2 separate regions of the Homo sapiens genome follow, and region 2 is linked to region 1. Evidence: fine-mapped expression QTL. Tissue or cell type: blood mononuclear cells. Region 1 holds a variant in brackets; the other region holds the start of a gene. All regions are shown on one strand. Distances are between the middles of the regions.

Region 1 (8,340 bases):
ATGGACATAATTTACAGACACTTTTATTTAATCCTAAGTTCTTCAAGGTACAAGTTCTTATTTGTGAAATATCTGAAATTCTTAGGCCAAATTCTGCTATTTTGAGCATCCTTAAAACACACACACAACTAAAGAGTGATGTCAGCAAGATGGCAGAGTATAACTTCCCATGCTTGTCCCCTCACAGGGACATCAATTTGAAAAAGTATCCACACACACACAAAAATACTTTCATAACAGCTAAGAAAACCAGGTCTCCAGCTATAGCTACATGGCTGGGGGTCAGGAGCATGTTAAATATTACTTTTCAAGATTATATGATGAGATGAAAGGAAAACTGGTCAACTGAAACTCATATATATATATATATATATATATATATATATATATATATATATATATATTTTTTTTTTTTTTTTTTTTTTTTTTTTTTTTTAAATAAATGAACTGGTCATTGGGTGAACTGGCTTTTGGTTAATTGACCTAGAGCCCAGTTCTGCTTAAGCCTGACTTTTCTAAAGGGATAATTAGCCAAAATTTCATCTGGAGCTGGCTAGAGCCCAGCCATGCTAAGCTTACAAAGAAAATGGTTCTCTCATCTGGCCCCCATTACACTGTCTCAAATAAAATCCTCATTGGTACCACAAATCAAAAACAAAACCCCAAAATTAAAAAGAAATCCCACTTTCCTAGACTACCACCAGAGACAATTCAAACCAACTCATCACTTAATAAGCAGGATTATCCTTAGTGATCTCTATGAGCATTGGATTGGGAAGACAGAAATCAGTGCGACAGGCAAGAGTCCACATATGGGAACGGCAAGCAGTAAGGCTGAAAACACAGCCCCGAACAAAAATACAAAGCACCCTGAGTGTCTGCCCAAGGAATCTGGACGATTTCACAGGCCACAGCTAGCCATGAGGGCAGTGGAATAAGTTCACTTGCTGATGAGGTATAAAAAGGAATTTGAGAAGCGCAAGGCCAAACATGAATAAACCAGTAGGAGACCACTGAATCCATGGAAAAAAAAACAAAAAACGAAAATTATAAACACATGAACAGACCTGCAGGCTCTGGAAGAAAGGATTTTAAACTCACTTCCTATTGCCTTTAGTTTAACTAATGATGATTCCAAGGAAGATGCAATAGGATTTGATAATTCATTAGATTTTGAGGAAGGTAAATTAGGGTTAGGGAAAAATAACAGAAGTTTTCAATATTTTGAGATTTGAGTTTGAGAGATCAGGAGAATAAAAGCCAACTTACATAGACACAAAATAGTTTGAAACTACTGAAGCAATAAAAACCCTCAAAATATTCCCTAAATTGAAGCCAAATCAACAACCACTAAACAAAAAATCCAACTGTTTGGTGTCCCTGGTTATGTATTTTCTTCCTGCTATAGTTCCTCCCCCAAATTTTCAGTACATACATTCTGCCACAATCTGCCCTGTCATCTTTCCCCCAGTTTCCTCATGAGGCAGGTATTCAACCTTTTGATACTCCATTCCTACAGTTTTGTGGTGCTCTAAAACCTCAGCTCTGCTCACTCAAGAATACAAGAGAAACCCGTCAATTATATCTAGACAGCTACTGGACAACATCAACAACACATAGCTATGTGCTTGACATGGACGTGGTGTAATCACAGACTCCTCGAGATCCGTGACATCGCAGTGACCCATCTCAAAACTAACTTTGTACAATGGCCAAAAAACTAATCAAATACAATCACTAGCAATTATTTCCTGAGCCCAAGTATGTTGCTAACATTTAAAGATTTTACACTTCAGTATTTTAATTTTAAATGTATTTATGTTTCTTCTCATTTAGAAAGGATTTGCAGTCTCTTACAAAGATAGAGCAAAAACAAAAGTTATGTGAAGAACCTGAAGGGGAAGAGAACGTAAGAATGAGGTGAGGGGAGAGAATGAAGGTGAAGATTAATATAGATTAATATCAAAAACACGTGTCATAGGTCCTGTCCACTTTGCCAAAGAAAGGTTGCAAGTTTGATTCTGAGCTTCTTCAGTAGCAATGCAAAAAGGAAATATGACCAGTTATGCAATGTAAAATAGAAACACAAACCCAATGCTTGGGGAAAAAGGACATGAAGCCCTCAGACTGAGACCTGACAGGACCACTTTCCCCAAGGCCTTTAGAGGAGGATGCTATGAAACATAAACCGAGTCCTCAACAACTCTTCCTGAATGAAAATAAGTTTCAAAGAGCTGTTCTGTAATGCTGCTTACTGTAAGCTAATGGCTAATAGCTCAATTCAGAAAAATGGGGTAAAATACGTTATATAATTGGTGTTCTGGATTACATAAATTATATCTATTATTTTATGTACTATTTAATATATATGTATTGAGCAGTGATGTCCCAAACATAATAAATGCTTTATCTGCATTTTCTTAATCTTCATAACAATGTTATGAGGAAAGTGCTATTACATTCTCCATTTTATAGTCAGAACATGAAGCTGGGAGAAGACACGGAACCAGAACTTGTTCAAGGTCCTGCAGCTAGTTAAGTGGCAAGGCTGGGGTTAAAACCCAGTTCTGTGTAATTCTAAAACCCATGTTTTTTAATATTATGCTTGCTAAAATATCTTCCCCCAATGTATCAAAATTGATTCAACACAGGCACATACTCTGATGATTTCAGCCTAAAAACTTGAAAAGTGATGGTGTGGCTATTCAAATTTCACTAAAGCTCTCAGAAGACATCTACTTTCAAGCAATCTAGCATCTGATAACCCTCCGTGATACACAGATGGCAACGTGTCCTTTTCAGTTACTAAATGAACTTACTTGTTCAACAGGACTGTTAGCAATATTGTAGAGAAAAAACATGATTTGCATTTTGGGAAAGATAACGTTAAGCCTTCTTCAGCTAGTCATTGCTGAGCAAGAGGGGGCTGTTCATGAAAGCACTCCTAACTCGTGACAATAAACTCTATCATTTACTTACAAAATAGATAAAATATAAACAACTGTCTTGTTGGGGAGAGGAGAAACCTATTTCCCACCCCTTCTGGGGTAAGATTCTTGGCCTCTTTCCTCCCTCTCATGCCTAGCGGAAAATAAATGACAAATAACTGGAGAGTGTGGGGCAAGCGCTGGGCCATGGAGCTGAGCCCCTTCTGGATTTTCTCTTTTTTCTGATCTGCACTGGCAGGGGAAGACTGCAGTGGTCCATGCTGCCCAAGAGCAGGTGGGCAAGTGGGTTGCCGATCAAAAGTCATGTTACCCAGTCCCGTATTGCCCTCTCATTGGTTTTCAACTCAAGAAAAGGAAAAGGGCCAGGCGCAGTGGTTCACATTTCTAATCACAGCACTTTGGGAGGCTGAGGTAGGCGGATCACCTGAGGTCAGGAGTTCGAGACCAGCCTGGCCAACATGGTGAAACCCTGTCTCTACTAAAAATACAAAAATTAGCCAGGCATGGTCGCGGGCACCTGTAATCCCAGCTACTTGGGAGGCTGACGCAGGAGAAGCACTTGAACCTGGAAGGCAGAGGTTGCAGTGAGCTGAGATCGCGCCATTGCAGTCCAGACTGGGTAACAAGAGCGAAACTCCATCTCAAAAAAAAAAAAAAATAAAACAACAACAACAACAACAACAAAAAAAAACAACTCCTAACTGGCTGGGCCTGGTTGCACACACCTATAGTTCCAGCTACTTGAGAGGCTGAAGTGGGATGACTGTTTGAGCCCAGGAAGTCAAGGCTCCAGTGAGCCACTCCAGCCTGGGTAATGGAGTGAGGCCTTATCTCTAAAGCAAGCACACACACCACACACACACACACACACACACACTCACTCTCTCTCTTTTCTTCCTGTCTCTCACACACAACTGTGGGCATTTTAAAAACTCATTTCCAAGGAATCCTAAACTCTGAGACCTTCTGGAAACAGGCAGACTTTATTTGAATTACAAAGACTGACCCGGCTAGGTGTGGTGACTCATGCCTGTAATCCCAACACTTTGGGAGGCCAAGGTGGGAGGATCACTTGAGCCCAGGAATGAGATCCCTGACTCTACAAAAAATACAAAACTTAGCCAAGCATGGTGGCCTGCAAGTGTAGTCCCAGCTACTCAGGAGACTGAGGTGGGAGGATCACTTGAGGCCAGGAGGTCAGGGCTGCAGTAAGCCATGATAGTGCCATCACACTCCAGCCTGGGTGACAGAGGAGACCCTGTCCCAAAAAAAAGACTGACTCTTCCTGTTTTAACAGCGGCTGATATATATAATGTTTGTTGTATCTGGCTAGATCAAGAGAAGTAGGGTGGAACAAAAGACAAATTCTGCTAAGGGGCTGGAGCAAAGTTATTAGGGGACAGAAGTGGAGAAAGACCAAGGGAAAAACCTCTTGCGTATTTTGCTACAGGACCTGTAACGCCATCACAGCTCTGAGGGCTGGTGGAATATGTGAAGCAGATGTGAAAATCCAGCTGTCTTCTGCTATGCCAGACATTAAAAAGATCTTCAAAAATGTAGAACAATGCCACTCTTTTCACTATTTATTTTTTCCTCAAAAAGCTAATATGCAATAATCTATTGCTTTTAAATGAATTTAAAATATTTCAGAATATTCTCGATTGTATTTTCTAGTATTATAAATAGTGATAGATGTAACCCATATAAGCAAAAGCTCTTTAGGGTAATAACTTTTAAGAGTGTCAAGGAACCTTACTTTTTTTTTGAGACAGAGTCTTGCTCTGTCGCCCAGGCTGGAGTGTGGTGGCACGATCTGGACTCACCGCAAGCACCGCCTCCCGGGTTCACGCCACTCTCCTGCCTCAGCCTCCCGAGTAGCTGGGACTACAGGCACCCGCCACAACGCCCGGCTAATTTTTTGTATTTTTAGTACAGATGGGGTTTCACCATGTTAGCCAGGATGGTCTTGATCTCCTGACCTCATGATCCGCCCGCCTC[G/C]GCCTCCCAAAGTGCTGGGATTACAGGCGTGAGCCACCGCGCCTGGCCAAGGAATCTTACTTTTAAGAATGTGAAGGAATCTTAAGACCAAAAAGTATAAGAACCACTGACCTAAATCATGATTCAATTCTTCACTTCTCTATTCTGACCTATAACCGCATTCTGTTGTCCATTCACTTTTCATCTCTAGCCACTTATATTCATCTCTAGACACTAGTCTCCTATAGCTAGGCTTTGCATGTTAGAATTGCTTTAGAAGTTTCAGAAGTTCTCCTAAATTTAATATATAAGGTTTGAACAAGTTCTAACACCATCCTAGGTTCTCAGGGGTTTTTTTGTTGTTTTTTGTTTTGAGTCAGGGTTTCACTCTGTTGCCTAGGCTGGAGTTTAGTGGCACGATTGTGGCTCACTGCAGCCTCCACTGCCTAGGCTCAAGCGATCCTCCCACCTCAGCCTCCTGAGGAGCTAGGACCACAGGTGCAAGCCACCATGCTTGGGTAACTTTTTATTATTTGTAGAGACCAGGTCTTCCTATGTTGCCCAGGCTGGTCTCAAACTCCTGGGCGCAAGTGATCCTCCTGCCTCAGCCTCCCAAAGTGGTGGGATTACAGGCATGAGCCACCATGCCCGGTCCATCCTAGGTTCTCTGTTATCTCTACAATCTGTTTTTCTGGCCTCATTTCTCCTTATTTATTTGAATGTTTATTATACATTTTGATCTACTCAAGAATTTCCTGCCTCCTGGAATGCTCTTTCTGTTCCTCAATCTTCCCATATCTGCATAGAAATTCTATACTGCCTTTTCCAAGGCCACCCCTATCTATGCCATACACACCTTCATTAGTACACCTCTTTTTTCTTTCTTTTTTTTTTTTTAAAGAGACAAGTTCTGACTTTGTTGCCCAGGCTGGAGTGCAGTGGCATGATCATAGGTTGCTGCAGCCTCAAACTCCTGGGCTCAGGGGATTCTCCTGCCTCAGCCTCCCAAGTAGCTGAGACTACAGGCACACACCCCTATGCCCAGCTAATTTCTTTAATTTTTTTTTGTAGGGACTGGGTCTCACTGTGTTGTCCAGGCTGGTCTCAAACTCCTGGCCTCAAGTGATCCTTCTGCTTTGACCTCTCAAAGTGTTGGAATAACAGGCATGAGCTCCACACCCAGCCCTTAGTACACAATACTGACCTACAACCACATTCTGCTGTCCATTCACTTTTCATCTCTAGCCACTTATATTCATATACAGCCTCGTTTTATCCTACTCACTTTTTTTAGTCTCCCTCTTTCCCATACGTATTCATTCTATCTTATCATTGACTTTTAGTCACAAATAGAATCTATCATTAACTAATTGACCTATTTTTATCTACTAAGTATGATTTAAATATGCCTGTCAATTCTTCTAAAAACTAAATGTTTATTAAGTTTATTAATTTACATTTCTCATTCATTTGCCTGTATATTTGTCCAAATAAACTAGAAATATTCAGAAAAATATTTGAATGTGACCTTGAGCAACACCATATACCCAAAAGCACTTGATAATGTAAACTTCCATTTATCCAGAATGATTGGGAAAGACACATTTCCATAAATACAATGTTAACTAAGACACACATATATACAAACTGGCAAAGAATTATACCGCTATAAAATGAACTTAACACAATATTGAGTATCACTTAACACTTCCTCCATGACTCAGAGGATAAGTACATGTCAGGGTCTTGCAGTGTTATTAGTTCATCACTATGAACATCAACTACTAAATAGAAAAGAGGGGATTTAAAATGTCTTCAAGAGCACAAACACTGTCTTATACTTCCTTTTCTATGCCCTATTCCAACTGGCAGAGAGCTGGGCACATAATCATTCTGTCAGCTAACCTGTCCCCTAACACAGCAGACAGAGTTCAACTTTATTTGTTTAAACTTTCCAATGATTTAAATTCTAGGTCAAAAGACAATTACTATAAATACTTTTTGATGATGAATAATCTTCATCTTTAGAGATCAAACAGCCACATCTACAATAATGACAACAACATAACTAGTAATTTGGCTGTTTGGCAAGAATTGGAGCATATGGAAAAAAAGAACCATCAGCCTTAGTCCAGACATTCTAAATGGAGGTTAGGAGCCTAAATATCTTAGCTGGAATGAAAGTTGCTATGAAGAGCCATAAATGTGGGTCAGAATGCTATGACCTGTGAGATCAGACAGGAAAGTTTTAGAAAATCTAATGGCAAGGAGAAAATATACAAAAGTATTCAAAAGGAAAAGAGTATAAAGTAATTGAATCATGAAACGATGTTCCAGCCCATTGCCTAACAGAATAAAGCTTTGAAAAATAAAAGCCAAGGTTGACAACTTCAACACAGAACTGGAAATCATAAAAAGTGACACCACTGAAAAAAATTGCCAAATAGGAATTCTAGGACCAAAAAATAAAATAAGCAAAATTAAGAATTCAATGGACCAGTTTAATATATTAGCTGAAGAAAGGAAAGGGAAAACCATCCAGAATGAAGCATAGGAAACAGGAAAAAACAAACAAACAAACAAAACAGAAGCATAAATACAAAAGAGAGAATAAAGTTTACAGTGAGGTGTAATGTGCCTTTAATTGGAATCCCAGAATTAGAGGACAGAAAGAAAGGAACAGAGGCAATACTTGAAGAGATAATAAATAAGAATTTTCCAAAAGTGGTAAAATATCTTTCCACAGATTTTTTTTTTTTTTTTTTTTTTTGAGATGGAGTCTTGCTCTGTCACCCAGGCTGGAGTGCAGTGGTGTGATCTCAGCTCACTGCAACCTCCACCTCTTGGGTTCAAGCAACTCTCCTGCCTCAGCCTCCTGAGTAGCTGGAATTACAGGTGCCCACCATCATGCCTGGCTAATTTTTGTATTTTTAGTAGAGATGAGGTTTCACCATGTTAGCCAGGCTGGTCTTGAACTCCTGAGCTCAAGTGATAGGCCTGCCTCTGCCTCCCAAAGTGCTGGGATTACAGGCATGAACCACCACGCCCTGCCCAATATCATTCCAAGGATTTAAGAAGTTCAATGAATTCCAAGCAAACTAAATAGGAAACTCATATGTAGATACAAAGTGGATATGCAAAAACCTCAAAACAGAAAATTTCATGAGCAGCCAGAGAAAAACACATGAATTACATCCAAAGGAACAACAGTTAGAATGAAACTAACTTTTCTATAGCAATACACAACAATAATATACCCTAAAATTTGTTTGTTCCAACAAAGCAAGGTTGGTTTAACATTTAAAAATCTTGTAATTCACTCCACTAACAGAGTAACAGAGAAAAATTGTATCATCTCAAAGATGTAGGAAAAATCATCTGATGAAATACAATACCCTTGCATGATTAAAAAAAT
Region 2 (8,340 bases), 22 kb after region 1:
TCATAAGCAGCACACCCTCGATCCCTCGCAGGCGCAGTTCATAATAGGGTTTGTGGATGCCTGGAGCCCCAGCTACAAAAATTAGCTGGGTGTGGTGGCACATGCCTGTAGTTTCAGCTACTTGGGAGGCTGAGGCAGAAGAATCCCTTGAAGGGAGGAGGAGGTTGCAGTGAGCTGATATCGTGCCACTGCACTCCAGCTTGGGTGACAGAGCGAAACTCCATCTCTAGAGTTCTAGAAAATAGAGTATTTTCTATTCTAATAAACTATCTTAGCTGTTCCCTTCACAGGATGGAGCCAAGGCTATCTGCTCCGCCTTCAAAAAAAAAAAAAGAAAAAAAATCTAACACTGCAGCTGATCTGACAAGAGGTGGAGCTCACTCATGCCCTCACCTCCTGCTGTGCAGCCCAGTTCCTAACAGGCCATGATGGGTACCAGTCCTCGGCCCTGGGGGTTGGGGATCTATGTTTTGTTTTTGTTTTGTTTTGTTGAGACAGGATCTCCCTCTGTCATCCAAGCTTGAGTGCAGTGGCATGTTCTCAGGTCACTGCAACTCCCGCCTCGCGGGTTCAAGTGATTCTCCCACCTCAGCCTCCCAAGTAGCTGGGATTACAGGCATGTCCCACCACGCCCGGCTAATTTTTTGTATTTTTAGTAGAGACCGGGTTTCCCCATGTTGGCCAGGTCTTGAACTCCTGGCCTCAAGTGATCCGCCCACCTCAGCCTCCCAAAGTGCTGGGATAACCAGCGTGAGCCACCGTACCCGGCCAAGGGAGCTCTGTTTTAAAGGACAACCTGTTACCTGGGATAAGAACAATTTGGAGAAAAAAAAATCTATAAGACTATAACCTCTGATTCTCACAACCACCGTTGTCATACCAATAAATTTCCACAACTCCTCAAAAAGAACCTTCAAACTGTCAAATAACTTCAAACTGATTTGATGTTGAGCTTTCAAAACCTAAGGTGTTTATTTCACCTTTGAAGCCTTTCTCATAAGGAGTTCTCAAAAATACCTCACTCCAGATCTGCTCATCTCAACTCAAAAAGTATTTTCTATTCTAATAAACTATCTTAGCTGTTCCCTTCACAGGATGGAGCCAAGGCTATCTGCTCCGCCTTTAAAATCAAACTGTAGGATTTGCTCTTAAAAAAAAACAACAAAAGTCTCATTGAAAATTTATTAATAAGTGACCATGTTGAAAGCTGTCCTATCATGGTTTGTCATCCTGTCTGATAAATAGTAAAATTATACAAAAGACTTGAGGTGAGGAACCACCTCTGAATGAATCAAGGAAACCAAGAAAAGAAAACCTAAGAAAGTGTCAAAAAATGAACTTAGCCAGACCACGCTCAAGAACAAATTTACAAATTTAGAATAAAATCAAACTCATCATGGCAAACAAAATCCTATACAGTCTTATGTAATCAAAATCCTATATAATTCCCGCCTGCCCACTTCTCAGATCTCAACTCTGGCCACTGTCCCTCTCTTCTTTCCAGCCTCCTTGGCCTAACAGTCTTCCGTCTCCATAAAGCGGTTTTCTCAAGCTGAAATGTTCTTGCCTCTGCTCTTGGGATCCTATTTGTCATTTAGATCTCAATTTCAGTGTCTCTCCTCAGAGACGGTTTCCCTATTTAAAGTAGCCACTCCCTAGGCTAGCACATCACTCTATATTCTCAGCAATTACCACCAGCATCGGATATTTGTTAAATTGTCTCCTCCGACTAGGATGTAAATCCCAAAGGAGTAGGTACTTTGCCATCTTGCTCATTTCTGTATCCACACCATGTAAAACTGTCAGGCACCTAATGTACTTAAATAAATATAAGTTGAATATTTATTTTGTTCGAGCCCAACTGAGTTCCAGCCTTTAAATAATCCATATGTAATATGAAATTAGAAAATCTACCAAGACTAAATATATATACACACACAGAAACATAACTGACGGTGGAAAACTGGTGTCAAGTGAGGCAGAATCAGCTCTGAAAGGGGCAGGTATAACCTTGACTTGTAAAATTGATAATCCTTTGTCCTAGTCTTATTTACGGAAACACCTCTACCAAAGAAAAAAAAAGTCTGGGCGCGATGGTGCACACCTGTAGTCCCAGCATTTTGGGAGGCCGAGATGGGTGGAACACTTGAGCCCAAGAGTTTAAGACCAGTCTGGGCAACAAGGCAAGACCCCATCTCTCTAAAAATAAAAATAATTAGCTGGGTGTGGTGGCGAGCACCTGTAGTCCCAGCTACTCGAGAAGCTGAGGCGGGAGCATCACTTGAGCCCCGGAGGTGACGCCGGCGGTGAGCTGTGATTGCACCACTGCACTCTAGCCTGGGCAACAGAGCAGGACCCCATCAATCAATCAAACAAATATTAAGGCATAAGGAGCATGCCTTTCCCTATCTTCATCTTATCCTTTTAGGATAAGTTCAGCTTCTTTTCTTCGAACATAAACTCCAATAAAGCCTAAAAACCAAACACGAAAATTTCTGGTAGACTATCCCTGTACTGCTGTCTTGAAAACAATCAAGACCAGGTGGTGCTTTCTGGAGAGCTCGCAAATCCCAGCTGTGCAAGTGCGCACAGGTGATTTTCCAAACAAACTCCGGCTCCCAGCCCTCTGCCGCACTCAGCTCCCTTTGCAAGTTCCAGGGCATTCAGTGGGAAGTACCGAGGCCACCGTCAGCTGAACAGTTTGTTTTGAAAAAGCTCTCAGGCCTACCCAGGACCTGCCTTGGGGTAGGGGGGGCGGTGTGGGCGTTCCCTCGGGCCTCGGCTGTCACGCGAACAGTAAATTCCCGGGCACACCAGGTCAGTTGGCCAGCGTAAACACATGAATCCCATCTCATTCAAAGCAAACCCGAAAGGTGTCCAGCGCTCCCAAAATAAAGTCCGCCACTTACACCCCCCATGCACGAAAGACCAGGAATGTGCCCCCCTCTATGAGCGGCCGGGCCTCTGTGGACTGAGCGACCCCAGGCAAGAGGGAGGCCTGGGAGGCAGGGAGCTCACCCGCAAGGGGCTTCCTTCCACCCGACGCCGACACGCCCGCCCTAGCCCCGGGCCAAGGGTGCACGAACCACGCCTCGCCGCACTCAAGGTCCCGGTTGGGCCCTGCTGCGCGGTTAGAACCGGGAAATGGAGGGCTCAGACGCCCCGCGCGAGCAGGCCCAGCCGCGCTTCCCCACCTGCCGCCACCGCCGCTGAGCCGGCCCGTGGGCGCGGCCGCTCTCACCTGCAGGAGCGGGGGCGCGCGGGATCCGCCTTCAAGGTGCCCACGGGCGGTGCGGGTCACGTGCCGCGCAGGTGAGGCTGGCGGGGCGGGCGCCGGCGGAGACCCAGAGCAGAGGGAACAGGCCCCGCCCCCGAACGCCCGCGGGGACCCAGAGCGGAGGGAACAGGCCCCGCCCCCCGAACGCCCGCTGTGACCCAGAGCGGAGGGAGTAGGCCCCGCCCCGCGAAAGCCTGTGGAGACCCAGGGCGGAGGGAACAGGCCCCGCCCCCGGGACCGGCCCCTGAGGCGGCGCATGCGCGCTCTTCCGCCCGGACTGCGAGTTCCTCCCCAGCTTCTGGCTCCTAGGGTCAAGGCGATTTCAGGCTTGGAAAGGGACTTCCGTCGCAAATCTTTCTGTTTTTGCTAAAGCTGCGGTCGCAAGGCCTAGTGATCGCCTGAAACGTCGTTTTAAAGGGGCGTTGCATGGAATGTTCGGCCATCCCTGCTGAAAGTTTTTACCTCTTTCTCCAGTTCTCCACCCTGCACTGTGTACTCCGAGGCCGGTCTCCCAGATTGGCCTTCTCTATTTCGGCCACCCTGGGCGGTCCGTGACTTGGCGTCTTCTGCCCTCGCCTCCTCATTCGGGTTCCCCTAGGGGTCTCTCCCGGGCAGGCTGCCTGCCCCGGGCCCCAGCCCTGCCGTTGGGTGGGTATCCTGAGCTCACTGGAACCCCGGGCGCCTTTTCTTCAGCCTTTCCCAGTGCGTCCCACTGGCTCACGGTAGACTGGTTTCCACGTGTCATTGACTACAAAGTGGCCCTGCCAGTGCTTTTTGAGATAAAAATTATCCAGAAAAAAAAAAGTTCCTGAGCAAATTACCACTTGTTAACTAAATGCACAACATAGTGTGGGACTATGTTCAGATGAAAATCAAAGATACAGAGAGCTTTTATTTTTAATCCATGAGGAAACATTAAAAATATATCAGCCTGTGGAGACCGAAGTTACATTTGAAGAGTAATGACCTAAAATGCTCACATTTAAAGATGAAATTGAGACCGTGGGAAACTATTTGCAATGAAAAAGATTAAGGGGAAAGGGAAGATTAAAAATTAGGATTTTGTGAAGTTCTTGTTAATTTTTTAAAATTAGCGGAGTGCATCATGATTGAGACTTTGAACACCAAATTCCATTCCAAAGTATTGCCAAAACAGTATTTTTCTAAAAACAAGTTTTTGATTGTATAAATAATAGAGCTCTCTGTAGGAAACACAGAATATATAACAGGAAAATAAATAGTCAATAATTACACCCCTCAGAGATCACCCACTCAGAGATAACATTTTCTCTCAGTCTTTCAGAAAAACTAATTTTACAAAAAGTCCTGGAAACTGCCTTTTTAAACAAACTTGTGTCATGAGCTGTTCCCATGTCTAAAATTTCATTAGCTTTTTTTTCTACATAATGGTCTACATATAAACATACCATAAATTATTTAACATTTTCCCTGTTGCTGGATGGTTTCAACAATTTTGATCTTAGTGTAGATAATGCTGGATTAAATATCTTTGTACCTAAATCTTTTTCTTTTAGCCTCAATATATTACCACGTTATGTACATAAATCTTTTTCCATATTTATGAATATGTACTTAGGATAAAAATTGAAATGGAGGCCAGGTGCGGTGGCTCACGCCTGTAATCCCAGCACTTTGGGAGGCCAAGCTGGGTGGATCACCTGAGGTCAGGAGTTCAAGACCAGCCTGGCCAACGTGGTGAAACCCCATCTCTACTAAAAATAGAAAAAAATTAGCCAGGCATGGTGGCACGCACCTGTAATCCCAGCTACTCAGGAGGCTGAGACAGGAGAATCTCTTGAACCCAGGAGGCTGAGGTTGCAGTGGGCAGAGATCTCCCCATTCCACTTCCAGTCTGGGGGATAGAGTGAGACTTTGTCTCACAAAAGAAAAAAAAGGAAATGGAATCACTGGGCATAAAGGTGTAGACAGTTTTAATAAGTATTACCATACTGCTCTTCAGAGAGGTTGTACAGTTTACACTCTCAGCAATATGTAGTTGTGTTTGTCTCTCCACTTTCTTGTCAAACTTGAGGGATACCTTTTTTATCTACACTAATTTGTGTGTGGGTTTTTTTGTTTGTTTGTGAGATGGAGTCTTGCTCTGTCGCCCAGGCTGGAATGCAGTGGCAGGATCTTGGCTCATTGCAACCTCTACCTCCCAGGTTCAAGTGATTCTCGTGCCTCAGACTCCCAAGTAGCTGGGATTACAGGCGCCCGCCACCGCGCCCGGCTGACTTTATGTATTTTTAGTAGAAACAGGGTTTCACCATGTTGGCCAGGCTGGTCTCGAACTCCTGACCTCAAGTTATCCACCCGCCTCAGCCTCTATCTACACTAATTTGATAAGCCAAATTGGTTATAATATTCTTTAAGTAAAATATATAAAAGAAGCCCGTGACTACACCTGCCAGTAGTTTAGCACCATGACCTCATGTCCAGTATAGTCAGCTTTGCCTGTCCTACAGAGACAGGCAGTTTCAAAGATAGAAGCCTCATTGAGGCTGGTCTCCAGAGATCTAACTACTTTAACACTCTGTCCTGTACCAGTTCACTCTACAAATCTATAAATTCTTATAAATGTATCTTTATAAATTCTGTTTCTATAGTATATTGGCAAGATATTTTAGTTAACATCTCCCAAAGTAGTTAGACCTTTGATTTGGAATATTAAAGATTTGAATGTTTTATGCATTCCTCACCCTAATTGTGTAGCTGTGAAAATCTTATTTAAGGCTGGGTGCGGTGGCTCACACCTGTAATCACAGCACTTTGGGAGGCCAAGGTGGGCAGATCATTTGAGGTCAGGAGTTCAAGACCAGCCTGGCCAACGTGGTGAAACCCCGTCTCTACTAAAAATACAAAAATTAGCCAGGCGTGGTGGTGCACACCTATAATACCCACTACTGAGGAGGCTGAGGCAGGAGAATTTCTTGAACCCGGGAGGCAGAGGTTGCAGTGAGCCGAGATCGAGCCACTGCACTCCAACCTTGGCAACAGAGTGAGACTGTGTCTTCAAAAAAAAGAAAATCTTATTTAAGGATAAAAATCCCATTTTGTCATTAATTTCTTGTTCTGCTCCTTAAAATAATGCTACTTGAAGAATATAGAAAACAATTTTAAGTGATGTATTTAAAGAAAAACCACCTTTTCTTTTCTTTTTTTTTTGAGACGGAGCAAGCTCTGTCGCCCAGGCTGGAGTGCAGTGGTGCGATCTCGGCTCACTGCAAGCTCCACCCCTGGGTTCACGCCATTGCCCTGTCTCAGCCTCCCGAGTAGCTGGGACTGCAGGTGCCAGCCACCATGCCCGGCTAATTTTTTTATTTTTGATAGAGATGGGGTTTCACCATGTTAGCCAGGATGGTCTCGAATTCCTGACCTCATGATCTGCCCGCCTCTGCCTCCCAAAGTGCTGGGATTACAGGGGTGAGCCACCGCGGCCAACCAGAAAAACCAACTTTTCTTTTTTTTTTTTTTAATTTTATTATTATTATACTTTAAGTTTTAGGGTACATGTGCACAACGTGCAGGCTTGTTACATATGTATACATGTGCCATGTTGGTGTGCTGCACCCATTAACTCGTCATTTAGCATTAGGTATATCTCCTAATGCTATCCCTCCCCAACTTTTCAATTAAATAGTAAGCAATACATGTTGTCAAAATACAGTGGCAACGGGAACCGAATAGATGTGAAGCAATGAGTGAGCCACCAATTACTAAAATATGTGGTCCTGAGTAAACAAGAGCTTAACGGAGAGATGAGAGGCGCCTGTGAAGTTGGAAAAGGTGGGCATAAGAATGTGTGCTAACTAGACCTGAAGTCTAGGCCGGCTGAGGGGTGAGCTTTGGAAACACCCAGTTTCACAGGAAATACTCAGGCATGTATTGAGGTTGTTTTCCTTTGCAGGCAAACCCAATGTCAGAGTTTCCAGAACAGTTGGACAAGGTAGAGCTCAAGGTATAAAAACTCCCTTGAGGTGTTCAGTTTATGAAATTATATCAAGCTGAACGCATGAAATTTGCCTTTTTCTATGTGTATATTACACTGCAGAAGACGTTTTTAAAAACATCCTGGCAGATTGCCCAGAGATTATCTCATATCTGATGCAACCATCAACTCTCCACATCTGGTATGAGCCACAGTGCCACCTCCTTGTAGAGAACTCTGGGGAGCTGGAAAGCTGCAACTCTGCCTGGGAGCAAGATAACTTCTGCATCATAAAATGTTCTCTTAATTTGCTTTATCCTTTGCCACTATGTAAAATTTACACCTTCGAACTGGCCATCTTTTCATTAAACCATTCAGAGTCCCTGTGTGCCAACCCAGTAGTAAGAATTAGCAGAGTTCTTTAGAAACAACTGGAATTCCATACAGGAAAAAAGAAAGATCCAGGGGCTGCCTAACAACAAAACAGAGGGTTGGGATGAGATGGTGTATATTGGGCACAGTGAGAACTGCCTGACAGCAGAAAATATGCATATGGCTGGAAGTAAGAATACCAGAAAGAAATGTAATGACATGTATGAAACTTGGTATTTGGTACACACTAAAAAATTTTTTTGCAATTCTCACTGTGCCTTTTTCTGCCTTTATGGTACAAGAAATATTTTTTGCTTATGAAATTTTTATTTTGTTTTGTTGGTTTTGTTTTTGTTTTGTTTTCCAATTCCTGGGCTCAAGCGATCCTCCCACTTCAGCCTCCTGAGTAGCTGAGACTACAGGCGTGCAACACAAACCCCAGCTCATTTTTTGATTTTTATTTGTATAGAGACAGGGTCTCACTATGTTGCTGAGGCTGGTCTCAACTCCTGGGCCCAAGCAATCCTCCCCCCTTGGCCCCCCCACCAAAGTGCTGGGATTACAGGCATGAGCCACTCCGTGCCCAGCTTTTGTTTATGAAATTTTAAATTGCAGTTTACATTTTTTCATTTTCTTATTGTCTCATTTTCTCAAATTCTTTATTTTCAGATACTATTATTAATGTTCTTCAAGAGAATTCAAGATGTTAATGCATTTCTGAAAAAAATACTTTTGTTTCCAG

Evidence for each region.
Region 2: WDSUB1 starts here. The variant in region 1 is fine-mapped to the expression of WDSUB1 in blood mononuclear cells (TOPMed, PIP above 0.99).

The regions. Positions count from the first base shown.
Region 1 is chr2:159,261,494-159,269,833 of GRCh38, forward strand. All of the region lies in intron 5 of WDSUB1 (WD repeat, sterile alpha motif and U-box domain containing 1), which reads right to left. Among named protein-coding and RNA genes, the nearest start is that of WDSUB1, 21 kb to the right of the region's middle. The variant G/C (reference allele first, on the strand shown) is at 4,947.
Region 2 is chr2:159,283,342-159,291,681 of GRCh38, forward strand. It overlaps WDSUB1 (WD repeat, sterile alpha motif and U-box domain containing 1), which reads right to left and starts at 3,362. Exons shown (of 11, transcript NM_001128212.3): 1 at 3,242-3,362. RefSeq lists silencers at 3,196-3,635, 3,322-3,491.